Linked DNA regions of Homo sapiens. The protein of the gene in region 3 purifies or fractionates together with the protein of the main gene of each other region. This does not show direct contact. Each region holds a gene or a part of one and is shown on either strand. Other genes may lie near its edges.

Region 1 (3,500 bases), on a different chromosome or scaffold from region 3:
TTAATAACATTAGAAAATTAAACAGAACATTACTATGATGTGAAATATGAAGATACACTTAGAGCCAGGTACAGTGGCTCATACCTATAATCCCAGCACTTTGGGAGGCTGAGGCAGGCTGATCACTTGAGGCTAGGAGTTTGAGACCAGCCTGGCCAACCCATCTTTACGAAACTCCATCTCTACTAAAAATACAAAAATTAGGTGGGCATGGTAGCAGGTGCCTGTAGTCCCAGCTACTTGGCAGGCAGAGGCAGAAAAATCGCATGAGCCCCAGAGGCGAAGGTTGCAGTGAGCTGAGATCACACCACTGCACTCCAGCCTAGGCAAAAGAGCGAGACTCTGTCGCAATTAAAAATAAAAAAAAGAGATACACGTGGGATCTTTTTAGCGATTGATGTTACTGAAATTGTACACTTTAAAAAATTTGTGGCTCATGCCTGTAATCCCAACACTTTAGGAAGCCAAAGTGGAAAGATCGCTTGAGCCCAGGAGTTTGAGAGCAGCCTGGGCAACATAGTGAGACCCCCCCATCCCCACAAAAATAATTAAAAATTAACTGGGCATGGTTGTACGTTCCTGTAGTTGCAGCTACTCAGATGCTGAGGTAGGAGGGTCACTTGAGCTGTTAAATGAGTGATATAGATAATTAGATATGACCAAAATGGGGAGTACCTTCAGTAATATGAGAGTAGTGACTAAATAAAGATGATGTATTTTGTTTATTGCTTTGAAATAAAAATTTTGTTTTTCTCAGGTATAGGTAAGTATATATAAGGTTTTAAGAAGGTTTTGCCCCATAGTTCACATACATTTGAAGAATACATACAGTCTTAAAGCCAGAGGAATTGAACTGTAACTCAGTTGTGATATTTTTTATTACATGCTAATGGCTATGACTTGACATTTATGTAGTAATGAAAGCTTGGTGTAGAGAACCTAGATTAAAGAGTAGTTCCCAAAATGGCGAATTATGAAATATCTTGGCACTTTGAGAAAATATTTAGGTTGTATACTACCTCAAACCTCTTATGGATTGATGCAGAATGTAAGCAAATATTCAGATTATGGAGCAACTGGACAGAATGGAGAAAGAGTAAGTTTTTCTGTTTTTTTATTTTTGTTTTTGTTTATGATGGAGTCTCACTCTGCCACCCGGGTTGGAGTGCAGTGGTGCAGTCTCGGCTCACTGTAACCTCTGCCTCCTGGGTTCAAGCGATTCTCCTGCCTCAGCCTCACAAGTAGCTGGGATTACAGGCACGTGCCACCACACCTGGCTAATTTTTTGTATTTTTTGTTGAGATGGGGTTTCACCATGTTGGCCAGGCTGGTCTCGAACTCCTGACCTTAGGTGATCCACCTGCCCCGGCCTCCAAAAGTGCTGGGATTACAGGCGTGAGCTGCCATGCCCGGCCAAGAATAAGTTTTTCGGGAAGCTGAGCTGTGTACTAAGTACCTAAAACAGAGGAGGAGCTCTTTAGGGAATTTTTTTGAGACAGAGTCTGGGGCATTGGGTTTTCTATGGCCTCAAAGAGCTGCTTAAGCCTGAAGCCTGGGGAAGATAGGGGAGCCAAACAAAAAATATAGCTCTCTGCTTTTCTAAGCAATGTATCTCAAAATAACTGAAATAAACAACTTGATTGCGACCTGGGCCGGAAGTATAAGAACTCTAGCAGAAACCCAAGTGGCTGTATTTCTACAGAAGAATTCTTTCCTCTAGTTGTGGGCTTTATTTATTATTCTTATTTATTTATTTTACGTATTTAATAAAGAGAGACAGTGTCTCATTATGTTGCCCAGTCTGGTTTCAAACTCCTGGGCTCAAGTGATCCCCCTATCTTGATCTCCCAAAGTGTTGGGATTACATGTGTGAGCCACTGCACTCAGCCCTTTTTTTTTTTTTTTTTTTTTTTTTTGGAGACGGAGTCTCACTCTGTTGCCCAGGCTGGAGTGCAGTGGTGAGATCTCAGCTCATTGCAGCCTCCACCTCCTGGGTTCAAGTGATTCTCCTGCCTCAGCCTCCCAAGTAGCTGGGACTACAGGCACACACCACCACGCCCGATGAATTTTTGTATTTTTAGTAGAGATGGGTTTTCGCCATGTTGACCAGGCTGGTCTTGAACTCCTGACCTCAAGTGATCCTCCTGCCTTGGCCTCCCAAAGTGCTGGGATTACAGGTTCGAGCCACTGTGCCCGGCCATCCCACTTATAATACTTATAGTATATTTGTTTTATGTTTATGTAATTTTATATTTGTATAATGATTTTACATTTGGAATATTTATAATAATATATAATTTATGAGGTATTGTACTTGTTTTGAGGAAATTGATGAAGTCCTATAGATATGAAATTTGGGAGATTAAATGCCTCTGTTGACCTATACATTTTACTTCTCAATAAAATTTGAGGCATTTATAGAGCATATATGTATCTGCAGCTATTTTGAAAATTGTACCATTATCCTCCTGGGATTTCTTCTAATTTTTACTAACTTTGGCTTTTTCATTTTGAAATAGTGATCACATGGAAAATGTGTATGGCTATTTAATGAAGTATACCAACCTTGTCACTGGGTGGCAGTACAGGTAAGTGTGATTATTTGTGTCACATCAGTCTCTCCTAAGAGAGCAGGAATAGGGCCCAATAATTTTATATTTTGATATTACTTTAGACAGACATGGCTGGGAAACCTTTTAGAGAAGGATTTCCCACAGCTTCTAAAAGTTTGGTGACTTCTTCTTAGAGGGTGGGAAAAGTTGACATCTGTCCAAGTAGCAGCCTCTAAATGCCTCAGATGTTACTATTAAATGAGGATTAGAATCACTTGTTACCTGGCTTGGGCATTGTATACTTGCAGAAGTTAGGTTCTTAGGGGAAGAGAAATAGGGGTTTGGAGACAGCAAACACATTTGTGTTAGGTTCCCATCTTATGCCAGATTCACAGCTTCTCTGGGATCTTGAAGAGGTTAAGTAACCAGCCAAGGGTCACACAAGCTGTCAGGAAGCAGGAAAACCAGCTATCTCAAATACTTTATAGAATTGTAGTTGTGGGGCAGGCATATTAAACGGGATCAAATTGTCTACCAAGTTCTATTATAGAACAGGCTAACGTAGAATGCCAGACTTCTCCAAACCCAAACATGAATTTTTTTTTTTTTTTTGAGACGGAGTCTCGCTCTGTCACCCAGCTGGAGTGCAATGGCATGATCTCGGCTCACTGTAACCTCTGCCTCCGGGGTTCAAGTGATTCTTCTGTCTCAGCCTCCTGAGTAGCTGGAATTACAGGCATGCGCCACCATACCCAGCTAATTTTTGTATTTTTAATAGAGACGGGGTTTCACCATGTTGGTCAGGCTGGTCTCGAATTCCTGACTTCAGGTGATCTACCCGTCTTGGCCTCCCAAAGTGCAGGGATCACAGGCGTGAGCCACCACACCTGGCCACCCAACATGAATTTTAAAAGTTTAAAACTTTTTAGAGTTACTTTTTATTTTATA
Region 2 (3,500 bases), on a different chromosome or scaffold from region 3:
AGGAGAATGGCATGAACCCAGGAGGCGGAGCTTGCAGTGAGCCGAGATCGCACCACTGCACTCCAGCCTGGGCGACAGAGCGAGACTCCATCTCAAAAAAAAAAAAAAAATTTTTAAACATACAAGTTGAAAGAATTTTACAGTGGGTGCCCATATACCCCTGATTAGATTCTGCCATTACCATTTTTCTGTATTTGTCACCTGTAAATTGCAGATATCAGTGTCTTTATCCTTGAATACTTCAACATGCATGTCATTAATTAGAGCTCCAGAGTTTTTTTTGTTTGTTTGTTTATTTGTTTGTTTTAAGAGACAGGGTCTTAGGCCGAGCGTGGTGGCTCACATCTGTAATTCCAGCACTTTGGGAGGCCGAGGCGGGCAGATCACTTGAGGCCAGGAGTTTAAGACCAGCCTGGCCAACATGGAAAAACGCCCATCTCTACAAAAAATACAAAAATTAGCCAGGCCTGGTGGCATGCACCTGTAATCCCAACTACTCAGGAGGCTGAGGCAGGAGAATCTTTTGAACCTGGGAGGCAGAGGTTGCATTGAGCCAAGATTGTGCCACTACACTCCAGCCTGGGTGACAGAGTGAGACCCTGTCTCAAAAAAAAGAAAAGAGACAGGGTCTCACTCTGTCGCCCAGGCTGGAGTGCAGTGGCACAATCTCGGCTCACTTGCAGCCTCTACTACCCTGGGCTCCCATCTCAGCCTCCAGAGTAGCTGGGACTACAGGGACACACCACCACGCCTGGCTAATTTTTTTTTTTTAATTTTTATTTTTTAGGTAACAGAGTTTGCCATGTTGCTCGGGCTGGTCTTGAACTCCTGGGCTCAAGCGATCCTCCTGCCTTGGCCTCCCAAAGTGCTGGGATTATAGATGTGAGCCACTGCATCTGGCCCCCAGACTATTTTCAAGCAATTCTCACAGCTAGATGTCACACTGTTTTGCCCGTAATACTTTAGCACACATTTCTAAAAGACACAAGTTTTTTTTTTAAACCATTGCCATAATTATATCTATCTAACAGAATGAATGATAATTCCTTAATCTAGTACCTAGTTCATGCTGACTGTCCTCCAGGTGGCTCAAAGATGTCTTTGAATGGTTTTATTCAAATCAGGACCCACAGGGTTTCTCTTAAGTCTCCTCATCTGTAATAATCAGCAACTCCCTTTATTAAATGCCAGTTACTTATTGAAACTGGGTCATTTGTCCCGTAGAATTTTCCATATTCTGGATTTGGCTGATTGCATCTTCCAAGTGTCATCTAACATGTTCTTCTATACCTATAAATAAGTACTAGGTCAAGAGGCTTGAATCAATTCAGGTGCAGATCCTTAGCAGGAATACTTTGAAGGTGTTTTTCTGTTTTCTCTTGCATCACGTCAAGAACATAAAGTTCAGTTACCCCACTTTTAGTGATTTTTGTTCATTAGTGAGTTTAGGGTATCAGTCTGACCTCCGTCGTAAAGTTCCCTATCACCCTCTTGCCGAATGACTTTACTGCCTGCTGATGAGCAAAGCCCAGATTATTGTTTCGTTACTATAGTGATTTTCTACTTCCGTCAATCTTTCTGTGCTTATTAGCTCTTGTTGTTTTTTGTTGTTGTTGTTGTTGTTTCTGGTTTTGTTTGTTTGTTTTGAGACAGGGTCTCTCTCTGTCATCCAGGCTAGAGTGCAGTGGCACAATCTTGGCTCACTGCAACCTCAACTTGTCAGGTTCAAGCGATCCTCCTGCCTCAGCCTCTTGAGTAGCTGGGACCACAGGCGCTCGCCACCATGCCTGGCTAATTTTATGTATTTTTGATAGAGATGAGGTTTCACTACATTGCCCAGGCTGGTCTCAAACCTGAGCTCAAACGATACTCCCGCCTTGGCCTTCCAAAGAGCTGGCATTACAGGCATGAGCCACTGTGCCCGGCCCAACTCTCATTGTTCTCTACCACACGACTTTCCTCAAGCATTTGCTTACCCTGAAATACAGTCCCTGAAAGGCAGAGTACATGGTTGATTATGTCCTTTTTTTGTGTGTGGGCGGGGCTAAGTCTATTTTCAGAGTAATGAGTAGCCCTAGCAGCCATGAAAAGTATCAACGAGTTGTTTTTGTTTTGAGGGGTGTTACGACCTTATGGTTTTTAAAGATATTTTGATGTGTTTCAATCCACTGCAGTCATCATCCGTTTGCAGCCTCTCTTTGGTAGCCCATGCCCCTGGAGGGTCCTTGTTTTCAGGCAAGAAGATATCTCAGCTCATCATGTACATTTCTGCCCCAGCCCTAGAATCAGACATTTCTCCAAGGAGTCCTGGTTCCTTTCAGTGGGAAATGTTCTTAGAGACATTATAATCTGGACACTAACGATGTCTGTGGAATTTTTACAAGATCGCCTTGGCTTCTCTGTGCATGATGAACTGGAGGGACAAGACCAGGCCAGAGAGACAGGTCAAGAGACTTTCGCAGTGGCCCAAGTGAGATATAACAGTGGCTTGAACTTGATCTTAGGTAAATCACTTAGCGCAATGCTTGGTACATGATGGAGAGCACCATAAATGGTAGCACACTCTTTCATCAATGACTTGATCTGTATTAGTTTACTTAAACTCCAAAACTGTATGAGGAAGACTTCCTTATCATTGTATACATGAGAAAACCCAAGCTCAGAGAGGTGAGGAAACTTGTTCAAGGTCACACAGGAAATGAACAGCAGAAATAGAACCTGAATCCAGATCTCGTGCTCTAACCAATGCACTGTGTCGCCCAGAGGGTTCTTGGTTTCACACTCAAAAATGACTTACATTTTGGTGCAAAACCTGATCCATCACGAGTTCATGGCGATTCTCCTGGTTGTGCCCTCAGGTTTGTGATTTTATTTGCTTCCCAGTGAGATCATAAACCCACGAGGGCAGGGCTGGGCCATTCCTGCCTGTTTGCTCCATGTCTCCAGCAGCGTGTACCACACCTGGCAGGTGCTCAGGAAATACCTGCTGATGAATGAGTGAATGGCTGAAGAAGGCAAATTCACAGCACAGCAGGGGGAGAAGCGAAGAAGGATAGGATTCCACCTGTGAAGATGGCAAGGACCAGAACTTAGGAGAGCTGAACAGTGGACTTCAGCAATTTCTGCAGGGATAATTCAAGTGAGAGGCTAGCCAGACAGATCAGACTGATAGGCCTTTAGACTGCGGAACATGTTTTCCATTGGAGGTGGAAAAACGGCTCCTCTTACCTTCCTTCAAGGCAGGGGCCGATCTGGAACCATTCAGGCCAGTTTTGCTTGGGATGGCAGATTCACCACATCAAGAATTTGATCTGAACCAGGCATGGTGGCTTATGCCTGTAATCCCAGAACTTTGGGAGGAAGAGGTGGGAAGATTGCTTGAGGACAGGAGTTCAAGACCAGCCTGGGCAACACAGAAAGACCCTATCTCTACAAAATATAAAAAAGATTAGCTAGATGTCGTGGTGTGCACCTGTAGTCCCAGCTATTTGGGAGGCTAA
Region 3 (3,500 bases):
TTGTTCAGGGTAAAACTTCCAGAGTCAGTAATTTCATATAGTAACATGTTACTGTTTCTTCCTTTTACAAAAATGTTACATCAAAAAAGACTAACAAAATATCAAAAGAATGCATACTAGATCAACATAATGTAGGTATTTTTCATGTGGTTTAGTATTGTTATTGATTCTCACTCTGTAGCCCAGGCTGGAATGCAGTGGCATGATCAGCGGCTCACAGCAGCCTGGACCTCCTGGGTTCAGGCAATCCTCCCACCTTAGTCTCTCCAGTAGCTGGAAATACAAGCACGTGCCACCTCACCTGGCTAATTATTTTTTATTTTTTGCAGAGTTGGGGTTTCGTCATGTTGCCCAGGCTGGTCTCCAACTCCTAGACTCAAGCAATCTGCCCACCTCAGCCTCCCAAAGTGCTGGGATTACAGAATTGCCACCACGCCTGCCTGGCCTGATTTTAAACTGAACAATTTAAAGTGGCTTAGGATATTTGTTTGTTTTGTTATCTAAATGAGGAAGACAAACGAAGCTTTGGGAAGCTGAGAGTCCTAACCCAGGAAGGGAATTCCCAGTAAGAGTCTTAGGAATGTCGAACTAAATGACAGAAAAGCAATTGTCCTAATTCAGACTTACTCAAAATGTGATGATTCCTCCTTTTCTCTTATAGTTCTTAAAAGATAGTAAACCAAACCTTTTTCTTAAAGATGCAAATTTTAGAAACAGTTCTTACTAACCTCTGAAACTATTATGACAAACTTAAACTATATGAAAATATCCAAATTAGTCACATAAACTCTTAGCTTATTTTCACATTTAATTAGGCAAGTCTAAACTTGTTTAAAGTAGAAAACACTTTAATTCATTAAATACAAAACTTTTAATATAGAAGGCATTTGTCCTTTGACTCAATCTCACATTTCACATTCCATCTTCTTAGAAGAGAAAGCATTACAGTTTTATCAGTAACAATTAGAACCACAGGAAATGTACAGACTTAAAAAAAAAAAAAAAAAAAGAACTTACCAGAAATCCCAATCCTCTGGGGTCACATTGAGCAATTCCTTATCGTACCCTTTCTCCTTAACTAGGAACTGGGCAAAGCTATTATAAATGAGCTGCAAATAAGGGGAAGAAAAACAGATTAAATATAACACCCACTATTCATTCTTAATGTCACAGACCTAAAACCCTAATGGAATTGCTGATGGGGGCAGGTAGGAGGAAGGAAATATCTGTAATTGTGAAGTTCTGCAGTATAATTCTCCTTCACAAGCAATTTATCATCCCCTGCATGCCCCAGGTAGCTGTCCCATTCAAAATTATACCGTCAGCATACAATTATACAACCAAAGACAATTATTAACCCTACTCCTGAATTCTAATGGGTTGGAGATCATAATTTAAGACTTGACAAAGCTTTTTAAACTTATTTAATACATCACTAAGATGATAAAGATGATGACCACTCTATCCATCCATCCTTGGTCCATTCTGGCCAGAAAGGCCCCATGTCAGGGAAATACATATGGGGACCAGGAAGGTGATCTAAACAAGTCATGATGCCTCTATCAGATACAGGTAATCACTCTTGTTTCTCCACACACACATACACAAAAACCATTAAAAAAAAAAAATCTAAAGACAAAGGACAAAGAAAGCCTCTGGAAGCAAGTACAATAATTACAATAATAAATACTCTGTTGATTGCTGACAGATCTTATTTCTCAACAACAAAAAATGCTAGGTTTTTGAGTAAAATATCTGGTTTTTAAGTGCTGGCTAACTTTAAAAGAACTGTACATACCAAACAAAAAGTGCACAAAAGGTAGATGGTCCAACCTTATTCTACCTCGAAGTGTTCTTTGGCCAGTGTTGGGTAAACTTGAGCCTGAGCAGAACAGTTGTCTGAGTCAACCTGCACAGTGTCCAAAAGGACACACTGAACAATCTGACCCTTCTTCTACAGATATTAACCCACAACAGGTTTCGATAACATGTCATACTTTTAGGGAGAAGAGGGAGGCAGAGGAGCAGGGGAAATCTCTCCTGGGTAGTGAGGTTTACACTGATACTTAGATGCAGCAGTTCGCTGGGTGAATGCAGAGGGAATGGGGGGCAACTCAGGTTCAGAAACTGAGGGGCCTGCACACAGCTGGAGTAGGGGTGTCGGGGTCTGAGTGTCAGGATATGAGCATGGAGAAAGCAAAGGCTCCTTGTGAAATGTCAAATCGAGTTGCTCCCTGTCATAAAGCTAATTAAAATCACTACACATGTACTTCCATCCAGTGCAATGTGACCTTATCCAGGTCAACTGTTAATTGAACCACATTATGTTAACACTATATATCAACAGTTCTTAACCCTGGTGGTGATTCAGAACCATAGGTGACACTTCTTAAAACTACCCAGAGCTTCCAAGCATACAGGGTAGAGAGGGCCCTCTCTGAAGCACAGAGAACACTGAAAATCACTGACCTGCATGTTTTACAGATTTTTATTCAATCATTAAAAGGAAAAAAGCAACAAAAAATACACTGAGTCACCCTGTGGTACAAAGTACTATGGACAATAAAAAGTCCACATCACGATCCTGCTTATAAGAAACCAGTGCTGCAGGGCTAACAGATGTAAAATGCTTAGAGCAGAGCCTGGCACACCAGCAAATCCAATTTAAGTATTTGCTATTATTATGTTGTATGCTGCTAAAAACAAAACAAAACAAAACAAAAAAACAGAAAACAAAAACACTGCCCTGACAGGTAGCGCTTGCCCATCTCCACGGTGTAAATATTCCCACCATGGCCTGTTTCAAGTCACCAACAGCAGTTTACCTGCTTGCACAATTCCTGAATAGTTAACAATTGGCTTTCACAAGCCCCTAAGAGCCAGCTATTGTACACCTTAGATTTGCCTCTCATTGAGGCACTTTTGAGTTTCTCCAGTTATTCAAGTGATTAGTCTAAGATATGGGCATGTAATTCTAAAACACTTGAATTCTCCTGGAAGAAAGGAGCCCTTTCCATCAGAGACGCCAACAGGGACAGCAACAGCTGTGTTCCTTACCTTGTGGAGGAGATTTTTCTGTAACAGGAGAGAAGGGGGCCAATGGACAAGGAAAAGAAGCAGAGAAAAGCAGTGTGAAGAAAAGCAGGGGCATCTGTACTCTGAAACCCCTGGTCTAGGCAGAAGGCTTCTTGCAGTTTGTCCTTAGAGTACGCTGAGTCTCTCTAGAAGCCTTCATGGCACAGGGCTCTCCATGACATTCCTCCCCCAGCCTTAGCTATCACCACCTCACAGTCTCTCAGGAGTAATAATAATACACGTTCTACTGCAGTTGCCAATTGGTACCCTGTGGTCCATATGCAGCCTACAAATTATGTTTGGTTCCCACTTAAGGTTGCCAGATAAAATTTAAAAATGCCTAGGTAAATGTGACTTTCAAATAAAAAACAAATAATTTTTTTTTAGTATAAGCATGCAATATTTGGGACCCCACTCTCCCACTC

Evidence for each region. The genes of interacting proteins can lie anywhere in the genome.
Region 1: the proteins of NT5DC1 (region 3) and OSBPL11 purify together in Homo sapiens (co-immunoprecipitation; one large-scale study listed by IntAct). This does not show direct contact.
Region 2: the proteins of NT5DC1 (region 3) and ACACB purify together in Homo sapiens (affinity purification with mass spectrometry; one large-scale study listed by BioGRID and IntAct). This does not show direct contact.

The regions. Positions count from the first base shown.
Region 1 is NC_000003.12:125,581,998-125,585,497, reverse strand, and holds part of OSBPL11 (oxysterol-binding protein-related protein 11), read left to right. Parts: intron 1-2,519; coding exon 2,520-2,588; intron 2,589-3,500. UniProt on the Homo sapiens protein: Plays a role in regulating ADIPOQ and FABP4 levels in differentiating adipocytes and is also involved in regulation of adipocyte triglyceride storage. Weakly binds 25-hydroxycholesterol. Interacts with OSBPL9 to function as lipid transfer proteins.
Region 2 is NC_000012.12:109,123,087-109,126,586, forward strand, and holds part of ACACB (acetyl-CoA carboxylase 2), read left to right. Parts: intron 1-1,059; exon of another isoform or gene 1,060-3,500. UniProt on the Homo sapiens protein: Mitochondrial enzyme that catalyzes the carboxylation of acetyl-CoA to malonyl-CoA and plays a central role in fatty acid metabolism.
Region 3 is NC_000006.12:116,103,853-116,107,352, reverse strand, and holds part of NT5DC1 (5'-nucleotidase domain-containing protein 1), read right to left. Parts: intron 1,110-3,500; coding exon 1,018-1,109; intron 1-1,017.